2 linked regions of the Homo sapiens genome follow. The protein of the gene in region 1 interacts with the protein of each later gene in a pairwise test. Each region holds a gene or a part of one and is shown in the gene's direction. Other genes may lie near its edges.

Evidence for each region.
Region 2: the proteins of RWDD4 (region 1) and ZNF330 interact in binary tests that used the Homo sapiens proteins (3 or more experiments, as listed by UniProt).

The regions. Positions count from the first base shown.
Region 1 is NC_000004.12:183,645,502-183,649,337, reverse strand, and holds part of RWDD4 (RWD domain-containing protein 4), read left to right. Parts: intron 1-2,800; coding exon 2,801-2,850; intron 2,851-2,984; coding exon 2,985-2,987; intron 2,988-3,836.
Region 2 is NC_000004.12:141,230,781-141,233,267, forward strand, and holds part of ZNF330 (zinc finger protein 330), read left to right. Parts: intron 1-658; coding exon 659-705; intron 706-1,744; coding exon 1,745-1,862; intron 1,863-2,487.

The DNA.
Region 1 (3,836 bases):
GGCTCATGCGATTCTCCTGCCTCAGCCTCCCGAGTAGTTGGGATTATAGGCGCATGCCACCACACCTGGCTAATTTTTGTATTTTTAGTAGAGACGGGGTTTCACCATGTTGGCCAGGCTGGTCTCGAACTCCTGACCTCAGGTGATCCACCTGCCTCTGCCTCCCAAAGTGCTGGGATTACAGGCGTGAGCCACCACGCCCAGCCGTTTTTTTTTCTTTTATAACCCAGATAAATGGATTGCTTCTTAGTGTGATATGGTGGATATATTTAGATTAATTCTTACTCTTTCTTCTTGGAACATTTGGGCCAGTGAACTTTTGGGTCACTGACCTTTTGGGTCACATATGTATACTGAAAATATTTCGAGAGGCTGAGGCAGGAGAATTGCTTGAACCCAGGAGGCAGCCGTTGCAGCAAGCCGAGACTGTGCCACTGCACTTCAGCCTGGGCAACAACAGCAAAACTCTGTCTCAAAAAAAGAAAAAAAAAAGAAAATATTTACTACTACTTCATCACAAGAGGTCACCATTTGAAAAAAAAAGGTAACCGAGTGGCAAAGTAACTATAAATGAGTCTAGAGATTGAGGAGCATTTAAATAGTCTACAAAAACATGTTCTACCTGGAGCTCTAACATGTTTGGGATTTGTTTACCTCTTTAGTAGCTGTGTGTTATTAAAAATTTTTTGAAATACAGTTTTCATTTGAAATGGATACCAGTATACCATTAGGTCTTAGTGTGATAAGTAATTTAACATTTTTGCCTGTAGTTAATTATACAACAATAATATTTAAGAATAGAATTCTCATATGTTCTAAACAAGAGTTCTTTAGAAGAAGATAATAAACTCTAGCTCATATCAACAATAATATTTGATTGCTTTTCTTTATTTAACCTGAAAACTTGCAAATTGATAACAGTCTGTAAACTTTTTCACAGTTAGGGAAAATGAGGACGTCATTTGTGTACTTGCACATTTACACTTATGTATGTATCTATGCGTGTGCTACTATGTCAGGTTAAAAAGTTTCTCTTTATTGAGAAGAACCGACCCTTTTATTTTGGTGAGGGCCTTTTTTTTTTTTTTTCTTTTTTCTTTTGAGACGGAGTCTCGCTCTGTTGCCCAGGCTGGAGTGCAGTGGCGCGATCACTGCAACCTCCGCCTCCTGGGTTCAGGCAATTCTCCTGCCTCAGCCTCCCGAGTAGCTGAGACTACTGGCGCATGTCACTATGCCTGGCTAATTTTTGTTATTTTTTGTAGAGACAGGGTTTCACCATATTGGGCAGGCTGGTCTCGATCTCTTGACCTCGTGATCTGCCAGCCTCGGCCTCCCAAAGTGCTGGGATTACGGGCTTGAGCCACCGCATCCGGCCTGGTGAGGGCCTTTTAAATGTCCTTTCTTCTGTAATGGAATGGCAGTTTTTTTGTGGTTTATGTTTTGTTTAATGTCTGTCTGTGGCAAATAGCAACTCTGTGTTTGTTTCCAAAATACATTTTTGAAATGGTAATGGTTTGTGAAATAAAAAAATCTAAGAATTCATTCTACCTAATGTCAGAGCAGCATTAAACTCTAAAAACAACTGAAGCAGTAAGTTGTTAGCCATTACAGTTTGTTGTCTAGAATTTGGTTTATCTCTCTTTGAATATTGTAGCATCTATGTCAGTTAGGTAATATTGCTTTCATACATAATGACCTGTGATCACTCTATTTCATTAATAGCTCCCTACCTTCATCTCTTTGATGATGCCCACCTAAAGCCATTACCTTCCCATAATGACAGTATACGAGTTTGTGACTTGGAGCTTTCATTCTAAATAAAATTTTAATGGGACAGCCACGGCACTGTGGCTAAGTTTTAGTTAACCAAAATTGGTGATGTGCCCCCTATAACCAGTAACCAGGGGGATACGATTCTTCTTGGCATGAAAGAGAAAAGAACCGATAGCATCTAAAATTGAGCTCCAGTAATATTGCTTCTCTCCTGTAAGTATCATGGGTTAATTTCTTTTTCCCTAGCTGGAAAATTCATATAATGTACTTGTTTTGAGTTTAAATTTTTAAGGTTTCATAAAGTGGAGACATGCATGGCATACATCAAGCATAAAGGAAATCAAGCCATTTTAAATTGAAGAATTTTTAGATAATATTTGTTAAGCTATTCTTTAAATTTGAATATTCTGTTAAAATAATAAAAGCACTTTGCAGACTATGAATTATAAGCTAGTTTCCAAGCAATCCCAACAGATTAAAGCCCTTTTTAAAGAATGTTAGATTAAATAATGAATATGTTATCAGATCACAGCAACTAATACATAAGTTAGCCAGCCCTTCTTTTAGTCTTGAAGCCAGGCCAGACATATATTTGTGAGTCCTCCTGTCTTGAGCCTAGCTTCTGGGTGCGAAATGCTAATTTATTAAACAGAACAATACAACTTATTACTTAAATAAGCAATGACCTCTTATATAAAGCAGTAGCTTCATGCAAATGCATGAAACTAATAAATGGATTAACTGCTTTTCCTGGCATTACCAACCCATCTCTATATTTTTTCCTCATTATCAGGTTTTGTCTTGGATAGCAATATCATAAATGTAAAAAAGGAGTATACCTAAAATATTTTGCAAGTATTCCTAGGAGAACAGTATCGATTCATAATGATAAACTCTTTTTCCAACTTAGTAATATGTCATTTAAATTTTTAACCTATTTGTTGTGTACAGTAGTATATAAAATCTTAATTATTATAAAACTAGCTGGTTGGTCTTAGAAATAAAGTTACTATTTTTTATCTTCTAGATCACAAAGGAGAACTTCCTCGAGGCTGGAACTGGGTTGATGTTGTGAAGGTATATAACATTTATATTCTAGTCTTTAAACTTGTTACAATTATTACCAGCAAATAATGAAATTCTTATTTTTTGTTTTCCCCTTCACAACCTTTGGAATTCACTGGGATGTCTGTTTCCTTTTTTACATTCAGCATGTAAGTATTTTTGAAATACCTTTTACATTCTTCTTTTCCCTGCACTCTCAATTTTAGATCTTTTTTTTTTTTAAGTAATGGAAAATTTGCAGAAGTTAAAACTACAATATAGTATGACTATGTAAGCACATCTTAAGAATGCAGATACTTAGGGGACAGTGGCTCACACCTGTAATCCCAGCACTTTTGGAGGTCAAGGTGGTTGGATCACCTGAGGTCAGGAGTTCGAGACTAGCTTGGCCAACATGGTGAAACCCTGTCTATACTAAAAATACAAAAATGAGCTGGGCATGGTGGCGCACGCCTGTAGTCCCAACTACTCAGGAGGCTGAGGCACGAGAATTCGCTTGAACCCAGGAGGCGGAGGTTGCAGTAAGCTGAGATCGTGCCACTGCACTCCAGCCTGGGCGACAGAGTGAGACTCCATCTCAAAAAAACAGAAAAAGAAAAGAAAAGATAACGCAGATTCTTAAATATGACTCCAAGTTATCAACAATATATGGAAACTGAAGAAAACCAGATGTGGAAAAGAATGTTTTACTTTCTTAGTAGAAATTACTTTTAAGTTTTTGGTTTTTGTTTTTTGTTTTTGAGACAGGATCTTGCCCTGTCACCCAGGCTAGCTGGTGGCATAATCACAGCCCACTGCAGCCTTGGACCTCCCAGGCTTAAGTGATCCTCAGCCTCCTGACTAGCTGGGATCAAAGGCATGTGCCACCATGCCTGGCTAATTTTTTTTTTTTTTTTTTTTGCAGAGACAGATATGTTGCCCAGGCTGTTCTCGACCTCCTGGGCTTAGGTGATCCTGCTACCTCGGCCTCACAACGTGCTGGGATTGCCGGCGGCAGC
Region 2 (2,487 bases), about 42 Mb from region 1:
GGCACCTGTATTTAACCTATACACAAAATTCTCACGTATTTTCCAGTTGAGAGCCAGCATTGCTGACTGGGTAATAGTATCATCTTTACACATAGTTTTTTTCTTGGAAGGTTCATTGAAATGAGACACCATATAAAACAATAGCATGTGGTACTTGGCATTTAAAAAGCCCTTTTTAAATAGTAGTTACTATTATAGGAAAAAGACCGAAATTCCCCAGGTATTCTCTTCCTTTAATTTGGTTCTTGTTCTGGTATGAAATCCTAATTATTATACTTATTTATAAATTTAAAGTAGATAAGTCATCTCTGTGATATACATACAACATACATACTACACACACATAGACACACAATGTGTATGCATGTGTATATAATTCTTGCAATATTTATATATAAAATTCTCAGATTAAAAGAGCATCTCGAAGTATATAGCATTTTTGAGCCTTTCGTCGCCTTTTGCAGAATGTATAATAATAAATTTAATTATTTTATTTGCAGCATGGGAGCTTTGTGTGTTTTATAGCATTTGAACCCAAAAGACAGGCAGCTGTCTATAAGGCTATATTCCATTGCAAGCTTTTAGTGATTTGATAAAAGACAAAAGAAAATTCTAAGAACCAAATAACGGGATTTTAAAATTAATCTATTTCCCACAGGTGTTTCATGCAATCGGCTTGGTCAGCACTCATGTCTCCGTTGTAAGGTATACCAATGCGTTTTTTTCTTTTTAGATTTTGTTTTTAATCTCTATACCCCTCCACCAGTCCTTGGCTTATATGCAGCTATAATTAATTTATAAGGGACCTTAAAATTATGTAGTCTAATTCTTTTATTTTTGAGACTGTGGAATTGAAGTTGAGAAAGCTTACATGACTTTCCAATGGTCATCCAGTCACCTTTTAGTAGAGCTGTGGCTAGTGCACATTTCTCTGGAATCCTGGCTCTGTGTTTTTAGTGGAGAACATTCTGACCAAGATGATGAGAGTCTATTTTAATTAATGTCAAAATATACCTGCTTAGAAGAGTTTGGGTAAAGATTTCCAAATTTTTCTGTGTCCTTAGGCCTAGTCTCTAGCATTCGTTCGTCAAAGATTACTAAACAGATGCAGCCAATGCCCTTCCTCTCAGAAGCGTTTCTCTAGTTCTTATATTCCTAACCCTATGTCTTATTTATCTTCCAACTCTGTTCTAGTTTTACCAAATGGTGTTCAGGCATTATCTGTGTTTTCTTTGTCTGGAATACTTTTCCATCTTGGCTTACCCTATTGCCCTCCCATTCTTCATATGGCTATTAAGACTTCGTGTCTCTAAGATGCCTTTCCCAAATCCCATGTCTGCTTTAGTGCCCTTCCCTCTGCACTTCCCGTTCAGTGCTTAGTGTCTTGTAATTGCCTTTTCACTGTCTCCATCCCTAGTTAGACCATACACTGTGTGAGAGTAAATAGGCTGTTCACCATTATTTCATTTCATCAGGGACCTTATGAGTACTGAAATATTTGTGAACAGCTAAATGTACTTACATGTCATACTCAATATAGTCTGCCTTTTGTTAGATCATTGTTCAGAAGGGTCCTGACAAAAACCATTTCTGTTAAGAAAATGAAATGAGAAGTGTGACTGCTCCCAACAAAATTGTTAATCTCACTGCCTTAATAAAGCTATATCTTTAAAACACTGAATACTGTCTTTTTGTATATTTTTACATTTTTATTTATTTACTTTATTTTGCTTCTCCTATACAGGCTTGTTTCTGTGATGATCATACAAGGAGCAAAGTGTTTAAGCAAGAAAAAGGAAAACAGCCTCCTTGTCCTAAATGTGGGCATGAAACTCAGGAGACTAAGGACCTTAGCATGTCAAGTAAGGCCCTTAAGATACTAAGGAAGTGATTTTTGCTTTCATACTTAGACAAAGTTTATCTTTTTTTTTTTTGGTCTATTTTTCTTATTGCCTCTTCTTATTTGAAAAGATGAATGTGTTCTTTTAAGCAAGTGGAATTTTACAGCTTAGGAAAATATGTGGGTAAAGTTTTTCAGTTTTACTTAAATAGACCAATATTCATTTTGATATTTGGTATTTGCCTTAGTTAATGACAGCAAATACTGAAATTTAAGATAAAGAGTGATTTTTTTTTATTTTTGTTGAGTCTTCCTTGTTAAATAGTTGAGTAGCTATAATTCCTTAATATTAAAGTGGTGGTAATTTTAAGTACCTAGAAGTCAAATTCACTCTGAAGCTATCTTAGGTGTGTGATATTTGAGCACCTATGTTTATTTATGTAATATAGCACTACTATAGGAAATTATTTTATGGTTTTTATGTAACTTTTTTTGTGAAGGAATAAGCATGCTTATAGTAATGCAGCTCGCAATTTTGTTAAAGAGAAGTTTGACTCTTAACCAAACATATCAGAATGGAACCATAATTCTAAGTGACTGACTGCTTTGTTTAATCACAGATGTAGTTGCATGGTGAGGTGAGACTG